2 separate regions of the Homo sapiens genome follow, and region 2 is reported to be linked to region 1. The links are microRNA targets in miRTarBase. Many come from high-throughput screens and were not tested one by one. Region 1 holds a microRNA gene; the other region holds the end of a gene's coding sequence.
The links. The annotated mature microRNA hsa-miR-200b-5p reads CAUCUUACUGGGCAGCAUUGGA and lies in region 1 at 3,182-3,203, opposite strand. An mRNA with a match to its seed (bases 2 to 7 or 8) in the 3' UTR can be bound and repressed. Matches are read on the target gene's strand: a 7mer-m8 pairs with bases 2 to 8, a 7mer-A1 pairs with bases 2 to 7 and ends in A, and an 8mer does both.

Region 2: miRTarBase lists TMT1A as a target of hsa-miR-200b-5p. Seed matches in the 3' UTR shown: 7mer-A1 at 3,214-3,220.

What each region holds. Positions count from the first base shown.
Region 1 is chr1:1,163,065-1,170,326 of GRCh38, reverse strand. It overlaps MIR200B (microRNA 200b), which reads right to left and starts at 3,223; the gene lies at 3,129-3,223. MIR200BHG (MIR200B, MIR200A and MIR429 host gene) reads right to left here. Exons shown (of 2, transcript XR_007065348.1): 1 at 7,069-7,262; 2 at 1-6,692. MIR200A (microRNA 200a) reads right to left here and starts at 2,464; the gene lies at 2,375-2,464. MIR429 (microRNA 429) reads right to left here and starts at 1,322; the gene lies at 1,240-1,322.
Region 2 is chr12:50,928,827-50,935,826 of GRCh38, forward strand. It overlaps TMT1A (thiol methyltransferase 1A), which reads left to right. Exons shown (of 2, transcript NM_014033.4): 2 at 1,088-3,682. The coding sequence ends at 1,324. It also overlaps a transcript of HIGD1C not described here. Among named protein-coding and RNA genes, the nearest start is that of TMT1A, 7.3 kb to the left of the region's middle. RefSeq lists an enhancer at 5,000-5,294.

The DNA.
Region 1 (7,262 bases):
AGACTTTATTACTATACAAAGACTTTTTTCTGTTTTGTTCCCGGTGCTTATGGAGAGGAGGAGGAGGAGGAGAAACCGCACAGGGAGGCTCTGGGTACGGCCCCGCCAGCCCCAGCAGGGTCCTTCCTGTCACACCCCGTGCAACGCAGCAGGCGCTGTGGAGAGTGAGCCCCACTGCAGTGTGGGGCGCAACTTCATCCGAGGGGTGCTTGGAGGGACTGGCCAGACGGGCACAGCGGTGAGGAGGTGCTGGGATGGGGAAGGTCCCCGAGCTCCGGGCGGTGTTGGATGAGCTCAGGCTCACAGGTGTGGCCCTGCCTGGCCCGAGCTCTCCAGGTGTGTCCAAACCTTGTGTTATATGCACCTTGCAGTCCAGGGCTCACCCGTGCGGTCTGGTGAGGTGGACGCCACATTCTGGGGGTGGCACTCCAAGTTCTTCCCCACACACGTCGCTCAGGCGGCAGCAGCATGGGGGTGGTTTCAGCTGGCCCTGCGGGGGACTGCCCCATCTCCCCAGGGAGGAAAGAGGGTCTGGAGATAGCCCCGGGTGGGGGAGGTCAACCTGCAGATCCCGGCTTGGGGACAGCTCCAGATGACACCTCGTGAGCCGCCTGGGGTGGAGGGGCCCCCAGTGCAGGGCTGCGTGGCCCCAAGCACCTGCCTTCCCTATCCCATGGTCTTGCAGCTGGGCACCGGCCCCGCCCGCCTCAGCCCCAGAGATGGGCCCTGGAGGGAGAGTGTGGTCTGCATCCCACGGCTGGCCCCTGGAGGAGGAGGGCCAGGGCTGGCCCCGGGAACCTCCCAGAGGTCTCTGCGTCCTGCTGCCTGGCCGCTGAGACGCTGTGACATTGTCCCTGCTGGGCATTTGTGCTCCTCCGTGCCCTGGGCTCAGGCACTTTGGGGGGCCCAGCTGCTTCTGTCTCAGCCTCCCCAGGTGGCGAGGGGGCTGGGGCTGTGGGGTGGGGCTCCGGGTATCTGTGACTGTGACCCCAGGGGCCAGGCTGATAGCACGGGGTCCACAGCATCTGCCCGGGGACTACAGCTCGAGGGCCCCAGGAGGCCGGGTGGGCACAGGCCATGGCGAGGGTGGGGCACAAGAGCCCCAGACCCCGGCGGCTTTGCACTGATGGGCTGCGGATGGGCACAGGCCATAGTGAGGGGGGCATGAGAGCCCCAGACCGGGCGGCTTTGCACTGATGAGCTGCAGGGCAGGCAGCTCTCTCCTCTAACGGTGATCAGGCAGCGGATGGACGGTTTTACCAGACAGTATTAGACAGAGGGCCAGGTCTAACCATGTCTGGTAAGACGCCCATCGGCCGGCGGTGGTGTGGGTGGCCTCCGGGTCCTGGGCTGGTGTCTGCGGGGCCTGTGAAGGGAAGGCCCCGGGGGCGGCTCCTGCCACCTCCTGCAGCTGCCCTGATCCCTCCTGGGTCTGCAGAACGAGCCCCCGAGGCACTTCCCTGACAGCCCCCATCCCAGCACCTGGTCCCAGCCCAGCCTGGCTGTGTGGGGGTACCCGGGAGCCACCTGGTCACCCAGGCCCTGCTCTTGGCAAAGGTTCCCTGCAGCCCCTCGCTGGCTTCCTGAAGCTCGGTCGGGTTAATGAGTAACAGTGAAGGGCAGCCTCTCCCCGGTGGCTGCCCCCTCCCCAGGCTGGGGCCTTGTGTGGGGGTGCGGTCCCAGGCGCCCTGGTTGCAGATGGAAAAGATGAAACAATGGGTCATCCTGGCCTGGTGGGTTTTGGACAAAGTTCCTGTTCTTGTTGACTGGGGGAAGGAATGAGACCCCTTGTCCCTCAGAGGGCAAGCGCAGAGCGTCCCCGCTCCCCTGCATGGTGGGGCTCGGGAATCTGAACCCACCTTGTCCTTCCTGCGCCCCCAGCAGACCCTCCACGGAGCCCGGACCACGTGAGAGAGGCCACTGTTGCTCTTCCCTCTCCAGCCCTGGCATCCCAGCCCTATGGCCTTTCCTGGAGCCAGGTCACCCTAAAACCCAGCCTGGGAGGTTGGGTGGGGGAGGCACAGCGGCTCCGGGAGGGGGAGCAGGATGCCCTCCAGGCCACCTGTGGAGGCACCAAGGGGTCCTCAAGGTGTCAGACCCAGCCTGGGCGTGAGTGACCCCGGGGGCACCCCCGGCAGAGGCCGGCCCCTCCCCTGGGGGCTGGACTTCGGAGCTGACACAGGCCCTCTGCCGCCCGCTCAGCCCTCCGCCCTCACCCGTCTGCTGGCCCCGCTCGGCCCTCCGCCCTCACCCGTCTGCTGGCCCCGCTCGGCCCTCCGCCCTCACCCGTCTGCTGGCCCCGCTCGGCCCTCCGCCCCAGCCCATCCCTGGAGTAGGAGCTCCGGATGTGCCTCGGTGGTGTCCCCGGCGAGCGGCGGGTCACCTTTGAACATCGTTACCAGACAGTGTTAGAGTCAAGCTGGGAAATCCAGCACTGTCCGGTAAGATGCTCACAGGGGCCCGGGAGGGACGTGGGGTCCCGCCAGGCAGGCAGGGGCTGCTGTGGAAGCCCAGGGAAGAACCGGAGCGGTGAGCAGCCAGGGGTGGTGCCGGGACCGGACAGGGCTGGCGGAGAGGGGCTTGGGGGCCCTGAGACTGCACACAGGCCCACCCTCCCTGCTTCCTCCAGGGCAAGGGGACCCTGGGGCTGCTGACCCGGGACCAAGGCGGGGGCACTGGTCTGCTCGGTGGCCGGCCCACCCTGTCCGGCAGGAGGGAAGATGGCTGTGGCCAAGCTGGGTGGGGCGGCTTCCTCTGGGTTCCACGTGGCTCCCGGTTGGGCCTTGCCCTCCTGAGCCCTCTGTTGGGTCCTGCTCGGCCCGCACCTGCTGGGTGTGACAGCAGCTCCCGCCCAGGCGCTGTGGGCAGGGCCCGGACACCTGAGCGTCCTAATCCCCAGATCACTGTGGGGCGCCCTGGGTGCAGCTGCAGGAGGCCTTGCATTCCGGGGTCTCTGAGATGCTGGTGGGGGGCGCCCCAGCCCCCTTCCGAAGGTCACGTCCCCCCGTCACTCTCCCCAGAGCCATCTGGCCCGGACGGGGTGGGGTCCGGTGAGCGGGCTGTGTGGGAGGGGAGTGTGGGGCTCGGCGGGAGGCCCTGGGGGCCGGGACGGGGTCGGCCGGTCGCTGCGTGCAGGGCTCCGCCGTCATCATTACCAGGCAGTATTAGAGACCTGACTCCATCCAATGCTGCCCAGTAAGATGGCCACGGCTGCCCGAGCTGGGTCCGGGGGCCGCCCGGCTGAGGGTTGCATGGGACTCGCTGGGAAGCTCAGTAGCTGGGGGGCCTCGTCCTCCTGGGGCACTGAGGACAGCATCGCCGGAGGGCAGGGGCCCGGGTGAGCCCCACCCGCCAGCCCTGCCGAGTCCAGCAGCCACCAGCTTTGGGTCCTGGGGTGGGCACCTGGGGGGCCGAAGTGTCCTGGCCAGACGGCCGAGGACTAGGTCGGAGTGGGGCTGACACGGGCCCTCTGCCCGCCCCGCTCGGCCCTCTGCCCCCACCCCTCTGCGGGGGACCTTCCCTCTGGGTGGTCCCATAGGAAGGCCTGGACAGCAGCCCCAGCCCCCCGGGCCCCACGTGCTGCCTTGTCTGAGGCAGGGGACAAGGGCCTCTGTCTCCAGGATGGTGTTCCAGGAGCTGCTTCCCTGCCCAGCCCCTTCTCTTCTCAAAGGCCCGGTGTCTGCGAGGCTCTCGAGACAGAACGGTCCCCGCCACCTGGAGACCCCTCTCCCATGCTGCCCCGCTCACTGCACAGCGTCTGAGGGCAGGGGGTGCAGGCGGGGGTGGGGGTGGGGGTGTGGGTGGGGGTGCGGGCGGGGCAGGCTCCTGACCCTGCCCAGCCGTCCCTGCGGTTTGTGTGTCTGCTGGTCTGGGGTCTGACCCAGGCACAGAGGCAGACCGGCCACAAACACAGACACAGGCAGTCAAGCCTCAGACGCCGCGAGGGCTGAGCCGCCTCTGCAGGGGGGCAGGAGGAAGTGGGCAGCCCTGTGGCCCCTCCTTGCTCAGGGCCCTGCCTGGAGCCCAGAGACCCTAGGCTTCTACTCCAGGCACACTCAGGACCCGAGGGAGGTTCAGCCCTCAGGCCAGACCAAGGCTCCCCGCCCGCTGGACACGCCGTCCTTCCTGTCCTCCTTCCCACCCTTTCTCTGCAACCACCTGGTGCCAACTGGGCCCAGAGAGCTGGCCAGAGCCACTCTTCAAGTTTTCTGGCACCTTCCACCCACAGAGGCTGTAGGTGGGGCGCAGGCCCTGTGCCGATTCCCCTGTCTGCCCGCCGACCACAACAAAGGTCGTGTCCGCCCGCCCCCGCCTGCTGCCGGGTCCACCCGGTTCCAGTCTCCTCCTCCAAAGGCCACGTCTCCGAGGTCCTGACCCAGCTTCCCTCACGCCTGGACCCTCTCCGGAGACCCCACACCAGGTCCCCTGCCCTGGCCCCAGCCTGTCAGGCTCCAGGGCACCCGGCTTTCCCTTTCCATCACCTCACAGGCCTTCGCCACCAATGCCATCAAATCCCATCAAATCAGTGCTTCAGGAACACAATTTCACCTGTTTTCTGAGCTAAAGGAAACTAAGACTTCCCGTTCAGAGCAGAGTTGAATTTCAGCTCCATTCCTGGCTGCCAGGTCACGTGGGGAGGGCAGCAGGTGCCCGGCACTCGTCCCTTGCAGCTGGGGCCAAACACAGTTCCCAGCCCACCCGGCGGACGGGCCGGCCTCCCACTGCCAGGTTCAGGGCCCGGGGCCAGTGTCCCCAGGCCCTTGGCCACCCAGGGCCAGCCTTCTCAGGAACCCCACAGGGCCAGAGCTGGCCTGGCCACCCCAGGCTCATCAGTCATTGCGTTCTCACCCGGGAGGCTGAGGGGCACACGGCAGAGGCTGGGACCCAGGGACAGACCCGTGTGGCAGGCAGGTGGGAGAAGCCTCCTTCCTAAGTTCCAGGGCAGGATTCCCAGGCGCCTCCTGAGTGCAGAAGCTGTAAAGCCAACGAGCAGCTAGCAGGAGAGGCCGACCCTGGCTCCAGGGCTGGGTGGGGAGATGGTGGCCTGGGCCGGCAGGCTCAGCTGGGGGACCAAGGATTTCGCAGGGCCTTGTGCCTGGCACAGGGGTGAGGGGCAAGGAGTCGGGTGGGCAGGCGGCCGAGTCTTACCGTGGCCACAGGTCAAGAAATGAAAAGCGAAAACGGACCTTCCCTGTTTTCCGAGAGCCCCACGCGGCGCTTTCTTGTCAACCGTCGCCGGGAAGTGGAGCTAGCGTGGCGGTGCCGGTTGAGGTGTTGGGTTAATCATCACCGCGGGGCCAGACTCAGCTTGGGAAAATCCAGGAGTGAGTCAGGAGGCCCAGAGCCGCCCCAGCAAGGGGTTCTCTGCGGAGCACACTCCCCGTGGAGGCGCCCCTCGGCGCACCTGGCCGCCCTGCCCGCCTGCCTGGCCGGGTCCCACCTGCACAGGCTGGGGTGGGGTGGGAGCGCCCGGCGAGGAATGTGATCCCGGCGTGAAAACCTAACTTGTTGGTTAACCTGCCCGACGGGCTTAATCAATGGTGCGGCCTCGAGAACAAAGTGTGAAATCCAACCCTCCCCGACCGCGGGAGCCGAGCCGGGAGTCAGAGGCTGCCGGGGGGTGGGGTGCGGAGCTCGGCCTGGCGGGCACTCAGGTTCTTCCCTCTGCGTCGCCGGAGCTACGCGTCTGGGAGGCAAAGCCGCCATTTCACCCACACGGCGGGCGTGGATTTGCAGCCCTCGCAGGCCGGCTGTGAGCACGGCCCGTGTGTCCGGGCCACGTCCACCCGCCCCACAGAGAACACACCAGCTCCTCCAGGGATCCAGGGGTGCGCGACCTCCTCGGCCCATCTCATCTTCCTCTAGATACTAAAAAATGTTCTGACAAACTCGTTTCGCAAATAAGTATTTGCAAATTACCAAAATGTCTGAAAAGAACCGCAAACTGCATCCGCATTTTCACAAATGCAAACCTTAATTTTGCCAAATTCAATGTGCTGCCAACCATGCTTTTAAACATTTCATCTGGGTTACTAGAAAAACAAAACCAAACCACGTCTTTCCCCAGACACTCAGCGTAAACGGGGCCTGAGACGCTCCCGGGGGGAGGCCTGAGACGCTCCCGGGGGGTTAATTAAAGCATCGGCTCTTCACGCCCTAAGAATTTTGTTCATCAAGAACAATGAACCTTACCTCCCGCCACCATGATCAATCAGTTCCCAAACTTCAAGAAAGCCAGTGATCCGGGCTGTAAAACCGTGTTCAGGTGCCCCCGCGGCAAGTTCAAGGCTGGGCCTCGGTGGGTCGGACCTTGTTCCCGGCTGCGGCCACCGTACTGAGCCGTTTCACATTTAAGTAAAAAACCTCACGAGAGACGTTGCCCCCACCCCAGTCATAGCGCGGGGCCTGGGAACCGGCTCCAGCTTCTCCGGGCTGAGCCCCACCTGTACCAGACCAGCCACGACCCCAGGCACCAACCTCACCGCCCATGGGCTCGGCCGGCCTCTGACCAGAGGGTGCTGAAACCAAGCCCTTCCCACCGCAGACTCCAGAGCCCAAGGGAGACGCGGTCATCCTCGCACCCGGCCAAACCCTTCTACGCACCCACCTCTGAGGCGACAGCTTCCCGTCTCCGCACAAAGTGCCTCAGGACGGCGGTGGCTGCTTCTGGAGAGAACTTTCTAGAAGGCCTGCTGTCAGGTAGGCGGCAAGAACGTGACCCCTCTCGGAGCCTGCCCTCTGCCCAGGCCCTGCCCTGAGGGCACCCCATGCCTGGAGCCCACACACTGTGCCCGTGCCCGGAAGACGCAGCCCGTGGGTCCAAGATGGCTCCACACCCGAAACCCAGCCGCATCTGCGCAGGGGCCCACCTTTCCCTGGGGGGGGGAAGGACCCGCTCCAGCCTGTGTCTGCAGTGACCGGAGCTCCCCTGGACGCTGGCCAGGCTGGCGACAGCCCATCTGTCACCTGCGCCCCTGCCCCACGTCGGCCACGGCGGGGGCTGGCGAGGGCCCCCCTGCAGGGAGCCGCCTCCCCCTGCGCCTCAGCCTCCCCGCTGCCCGCCCTTACCTGCCCCGACAGGTTCCACTGCTGCGGCCGCGGCCCAGGAGCCGGGTTGAGGCTGCTCCCGCCCCGACCCTGCAGCCAGCGCCTCCCCTGTGCCAGGCCCGGGTGGGTGTGAACCGGCTTCGGAAGGAATGGGGGGCACCTGAGCCCGTCCGTCCCGGTCCACGGAGCTGGGTGCTCTGCCTCAGCCAGGGTCA
Region 2 (7,000 bases), not on the chromosome of region 1:
TCAACAGTCTCCTGGATTGCTCAGAGGCACCTCTTAACATATGTAAACCAGAGGGCAACACTGACCTCCCCAAACCTGCCTCTCCTCCTTTATGCTGCCCTATCCTATGAAGATTTTTTTTAAAATCAGGGCCGGGCACGGTAGCTCACGCCTGTAATCCCAGCACTTTGGGAGGCCTAGACAGGAGGATCACTTGAGCTCAGGAGTTCGAGACCAGCCTGGGCAATGCGGCGAAACTCTGTCTCTATAAAAAAAAAAATTAGCTGGGTGTAGTGGTGTGCACCTGTTGTCCCAGCTACTTGGGGGGCTGAGGCAGTAGGATTGCTTGAGCCCAGGAGGCAGAGGTTGCAGTGAGCTGAGACTGTGCCACTGCATTCCATCCTGGGTGACAGAGCCAGGCCCTGTCTCAAGAAATAATAAATGAATAAATAAATCAGGAAATTCCAATTTTTCTATTCGTAACATAGGTCTTACACTGACCCATATAATTTGGGGAAACTCCATCACTAAACTGAATTCTCTCTCTAAACTCTGCCTGAGGAGCCAAGACTAGGATAACTAGAGGAGGCCAAGAAGAGTGGTGCAGTTACCACAATTTTGTGAGGTGACTGTCTGGTCCCTTGCTCCTTACTCCCCTCAGAGGTAGATATGTAGAAAACTTCTGAAGATGTCCCCACACATAACATGTAATAACATCTATTGTGCCTGTACTTGATCAACATTTATAAAACTCCTCAATGAAAGCAGCAGTTGCTAATTCCTACAAAGAGTAATTTACATTTAGCATCCACTGACTGAATAAAATACCTAATGACAAAATGTTACCTTGAATTCAGTAATGATTTTAGATGAATCAGAATTTTCATTAATCATATCACGTACATATTTGTGAAAATGGCACAAAAATTTAAAACATGGTTATTCAGTCTCAAGGGTGTGCTTAGTGTGGAGTGACCCTCCTGCTCAGAACTCTACGGTTCTCTCACAGGTTTGCAAGGCAGTGCCAGAGAACAATTTTCAAAAAATAAATTAAAAAAGCAGAAATGAAAAAATCCTTGAAATGTTTTTTTTTTTCTTTCTTTCTCAGGGAGGGGCTTTCTATTTCATGGAGCATGTGGCAGCTGAGTGTTCGACTTGGAATTACTTCTGGCAACAAGTCCTGGATCCTGCCTGGCACCTTCTGTTTGATGGGTGCAACCTGACCAGAGAGAGCTGGAAGGCCCTGGAGCGGGCCAGCTTCTCTAAGCTGAAGCTGCAGCACATCCAGGCCCCACTGTCCTGGGAGTTGGTGCGCCCTCATATCTATGGATATGCTGTGAAATAGTGTGAGCTGGCAGTTAAGAGCTGAATGGCTCAAAGAATTTAAAGCTTCAGTTTTACATTTAAAATGCTAAGTGGGAGAAGAGAAACCTTTTTTTTGGGGGGCGGTTTTTTTGGTTTGTTGTTGGTTTTTTTTTTTTTTTTGGCGGGAAGAAAGAGTTTTGCTCTTGTTGCCCAGGCTGGAGTGCAATGACGTGATCTCCGCTCACTGCAACCTCCACCTCGCGGGTTTAAGCGATTCTTCTGCCTCAGCCTCCCTAGTAGCTGGGATTACAGGTGCCCACCACCATGCCCAGCTAATTTGTATTTTTAGTTGAGACAGGGTTTCACTACGTTGGCCAGGCTGGTCTTGAACTCCTGATCTCAGGCAATCCACCCACCTCAGCCTCCCAAAGTGCTGGGATGACAGGCGTGAGCAACCGCACCCAGCTTAAGGTTTTTTTGTTTTGTTTTGAGACGGAGTTTTCGCTCTTGTTGCCCAGGCTGGAGTGCAATGCTGTGATCTCAGCTTACCACAACCTCCACCTCCCGGGTTCAAGTGATTCACCTGCCTCAGCCTCCTGAGTAGCTGGTATTACAGGCATGCGTCACCACGCCGGCTAATTTTGTACTTTTAGTAGAGATGGTGTTTCCCCACGTTGGTCAGTCTGGTCTCAAATTCCTGACCTCAGGTGATCTGCCTGCCTCGGCCTCCCAAAGTGCTGTGATTACAGACGTCAGCCACCATGCCTGGCCTGAAACCTTTTTTAGGTAAAGTTGAATTCCATCCTTAAAAGTTTCTGTTATATCCTATTTAGCCATTTTCTATTGTCTCCCAAAGAATTCACATCAAAAAAACAGCTTTGAACTCCCCCTTCAAAGGAAACAGTCGACTTTCATAATTAGCATCTACCATTATCCCCAAATCTTATTTTATTCATTGACTTGAAATTTTTTCCAATTGCTTTTTTTTTTTTTTTTTTAAGGTTAAGAGCAGAGGTTTACTAGGCCAAAGAAAGAGAATAGCTCTCTGTTGCAGAGAGGGGTCCTGGAGAAATGGGTTACCCCAGTTGTCTTATTTAAATGGTTACCCATCAGATTTTAATTTTATCTTCTCTTTGAGAGCTTGGTAATAAGAAGCACTTAAATCACTCCAAAGAAGACTTTAAAAAGGGAGCAGTGAAAAGGTCTTAATAATTTATTGATTGAATTAAGAAATACTAGCTAATTAAGAATCTGAGTCTAAACAGCACAGATTTTTTCTTTCTGCTTTTAAATTGTGTTTTAAAAAAAGAGACAGGGGGCTGGGCGTGGTGGCTCACGCCTGTAATCCTAGCACTTTGGGAGGCCGAGGCGGGTGGATCACGAGGTAGGAGTTAAAGACCAGCCTGGCCAACATGGCAAAACCCTACTAAAGATACAAAAAAAAAAAAAAATTAGCCAGGCGTGGTGGTGGGTGCCTGTAATCCCAGGTACTTGGAAGGCTGAGGCAGGAGAATCTCTTGAACCCAGAAGGCGAAGGTTGCAGTGAACCGAGATCATGCCATTGTACTCTAGCCTGGGTGACAAGAGCAAGACTCCGTCTCAAAAAAAAAAAAAAAAAAAAAAAGAAGTAGAGACAGGGAGACAGGGTCTCACTGTGTTGCCTAGGCCGGTCTTGAACTCCTGGGCTCAAGTGATTCTCCCACCTTGACCTCCTAAATTGTTGGGATTACAGGTGTGAGACAGTGCACCTGGCCGAAATAGCTCAAGTTTCTGAAAAACAAATCTGAATCTATTTGTTATTCTTAGCGTCACTGGTCTGGCTTTCAGAATTAACATACAAGGTTGCCACACCTAGTTCTGCCCAGCTTTATGTCTTTTATTCCAGTATTCCACCAAAGTTTGTTTTCCTGCATTCCAGTTCTCAAGTCTTAAGATAAAGATTGTACTTGACAGTTTAGTATATCCATAAAACTATTTGAGGTGGTTAAGGTTCTTGGGTTCATTTTCCTTAATACTTTGCTGAATATTGTAGATTGTAGGCAATGAAAAAGTCTACTAAATTAGGAAAACCTTGAATAATTAGGTATCCTAGGTAAGAGCCCCTAAACATCAAGCAATCTGTGAGTCTGTAAAGAAATAAATATTTTTTGGATTATTCTTATCTAATTCCACCCCTGTTGGAAGATGATTTCTTTGTTCTTTGCAACTATGGAAGCTGTGAAAATCATCACAAGTGCCTCTGAAAGCGAGTGTTAGGTTGGTTAGAGGGTTTAATATTTTCTGCAATGGTTTGTAGGAATTTTAATAAATGTAGTATATTTTCTGAGATGATTTTGTAAAAGTACTATTTTAAATATCAAATCAACCAATAAATTCACATTTGTGTTAGGAACAGAAATATGGTTTATATCTTTGCTGGCTTGGTTTCCTTTTTCTTAATGTCTCTGGGAGGCTTATTCCTTCATTGTGGAAATTTTAGCTATTTAAACATGTAAATTTTTCTTTCTACAGCCAGGTAACTATAAACACAGCCAATAGATTTTACACAAAGCAATCCTAGAAGTATCAGAATGGGTTTTGAAAAGTTCAAGTCCATCATGTGATCATGTTTGGCTACTTTAAAAAAGCAAAAAAGTTCAAGTCTAACGATCCCATTTGTGAAATCCACAGAGCAGAAAGAAAGGAAGCTTTTACTATTTTAACTATCTCTTGAACGTGAAAAGTTATTGATGCAGTGAGGTCGAATGCACACCTACTGCTTCCTAAGCTCTGGAACATGAATCTCCTTCCTCTGTCATCTCCCCAGAATTGGAACCTCCTTAATCCAACCATCTCACTATTGGTCAGTCTAGTGATTGAGAAATAGGAAAAGCCACAGGTTGAAATGATGAAATGTCATTACACTGAAAGATAATACCAAAGTACAAAGTCCTAGGCACAGTCTTGTCAATTCCCTCTTGTCTAAGTGGTGTGGCAAATATTATTGTCACTTTTCAGAGAAAACTGAGGTGTAGAGAAATAAATAAATGAAGTTTTTTACAGTCATTCCACAAGTTACTGAGCAAGTCTTAGAAGCCCTGACTCCCCAAACCACAAAATCTCCTTTGATAATCATTGCTGCCATAACACCTTCTTTTACTGCTTTCCTCCTTGAATCCAGAGAACACATATTTATAATCATTTTAAGAGCCTGAGGAAATGACTTCAGCCTGTGCAAAAGGGAGAAAGAAAAAAAGGCAAAACATGTCCAATGTCTTTTAGGTCCTATATTGGTTAGGAATCCTTTGATTCCAAGTGACAGAATCCCAATCCAAACAGACTTAAGCAGAAAAAGGACTATCAACTCAAATTAGTGAAAATCATACAGGCAGAAAGCCTCAGGCACAGCCTGAACAGGGCTCAGATAATGTTATCAGGAGCCAGACAATCTCTAGGGTCATGTCTGTCCTCCCCTCTGCTCTATTAGGTAGCAAGTTGGTAGAAATGGCTCTGACCTTCATGCTTCCAGGGCACAAGCCCAGTTAGAAAGAGCAAGCCTACTTTTTGTGGCCATACCAGACCAATCTGATTTAACCTTTATGTAACAAAGTTGTGAGTTGTTTTTCAGTTGCCAATGGACCCTCAGGTCATGTGCCCTGAGCACACCCAGATGAACCAAGCCTGCAACCACAGGGGGAACCTAAGCTAAGTGCTCAGTCCAAGGATGGGGACTGAATTAAGAAGCAGACACATGGGAGGATCCATGACCGATCAGATCAAGCTGTGGTATCACCCCATGGCAGGATCCAGTCAGATCATGCCTCCCGGCATCACCTCATTGCAAGATCCAATCAGATCATGCCTCATTACCCTATACTTACAAAACCTGACCAAGCCCCCAGCTCTGGGAGATACTGCTCTGGGAGATACAGCCCTGGCATTCTCCTTACTTGTTGCAAGTAATAAAATCCCCTTGCTAAATGCTCCTTGGTTGTGGTCATTGGGTTGAATTTGCAATGGATGCTAGGAAGGCACATAACAAATATACATTATAAACCCATTGCTGGATTTCACCGGATTTGGATCAGACCCTGTCTGTCTTCCTATGGGAGATCATATAGTACAATGCTTAGAACACTGGATTTTCAGTGGGATAACTGCTTGCAACAAAGAAAGTAAAAGACAAATTGAAACACTGGCTTTGGCATCAAAGTGACATGGTCAAGTCCTGGTTGTGTCATTGGTTGAGTCTGTGACCTTGAGCAAGTTATCTGTTTTTTCATCTGTAAATGGGGGTATCTACCTAAAAGGTTATGCTGAGGAGTAAATGAAGCAATGCACTTGGCACTTAATATAGGTTGACTTCATTCAACAGATATTTATTGAGTGTCTACTGTGTGCTCTGCTCTTAGTGCCTGGCTTAGAGCCCTGAATAACTAGACATATCCCTGCCTGCGTGGAGCATACAATGATGATAAATGTTTTCTATAGATGAGGAAGAAGCTCAGGGTGCCCAGCGAATGTAATCTGACCTATCCAAGAGGAGAAGCTCTGAGGCTTTCTTGAGGAAGTAACATCTGAGCTGAATTCCAAAGAATGAAAAAAGAATATTTCAGTCAACTAGAATAGCTCGTGCCACAGCCAAGTGAAAGGAGGAAACACACTATATTCAAGGAAATGAAAGAAACCAGACAGGGCTGGGCACCAGAGCCTCAAGGGCAGATTCTAGGATGGTTACTATTTCCATCAGTTTCTTCCTAAATCTTGTTAAGACCCTGGGACAATGAGCCAAATGCTTATTTTAATGGCTGACACACACACACACACACAAAGGTACATTAAAATGTCTTATATTCTGAAACATTTTTTATTCCCAAGTGTTCTAATATTCAAATTGTTTCATCTGAATTCCTACATAGTTCAAACTTGAATAGAAAGTAAAGCAGACATTGCCTAATAGTTCCTTTTGTACTCTTGATCGTACCATAAGCCTTCCCCTTTCGTCTTGGTTTAGAAAACACAGAACTTAACATAACTGAAATTCTTGTTTATCTGTTAAAGTAATTAAAAGTCTGATGAATCATAGCAAACCAGTACCAACAAAAGCAAAAAGGCAAACTGTTCAGTATCACTTTAACTCTCTCAATATTTAAAACCAGAAGCATTAGGCTACATTAAAAAATAAAAAGAATTCCCTGTTGAACTGTGGAGCCACTGGTTAATCCCAGTGCCAGAGAAACGGAGCAGAGGTCACCTGAACAAAGGGCAAAGTAAATAATGAACCAGCAATGTGCAAGGTATTATTTTGTTTCTAAAGGAAACCATCTTGGGAACCTGCAGAGAACTACATGGTAACATATATGTGAACTAGGAAAATTACCATTCAGAATTTACCGTTTTTTGTTTTGTTGTTTTTTGAGACACGGTCTCCCTCTGTGGCCCAGGCTGTAATGAGGTGGTGTGATCATGGCTCACTGCAGCTTCAATCTCCCAGGCCCAAGTGATCATCCTGCCTCAGGCTCCTAAGTAGCTGGGACCACAGGCATGCACCAGCACACCTGGTTAATTTTTTTATTTTTAGTAGAGATAGGGTCTCACCGTGTTGCCCAGGCTGGTCTCAAACACCTAGGCTTAAGTGATCCTCCCTCCTCAGCCTTCCAAAGTTCTGGGATTACAGGCATTAGCCACCACACCCAGCCCCAGAATTTAACATTCTTAAAAGTAAAAAGCATGATAG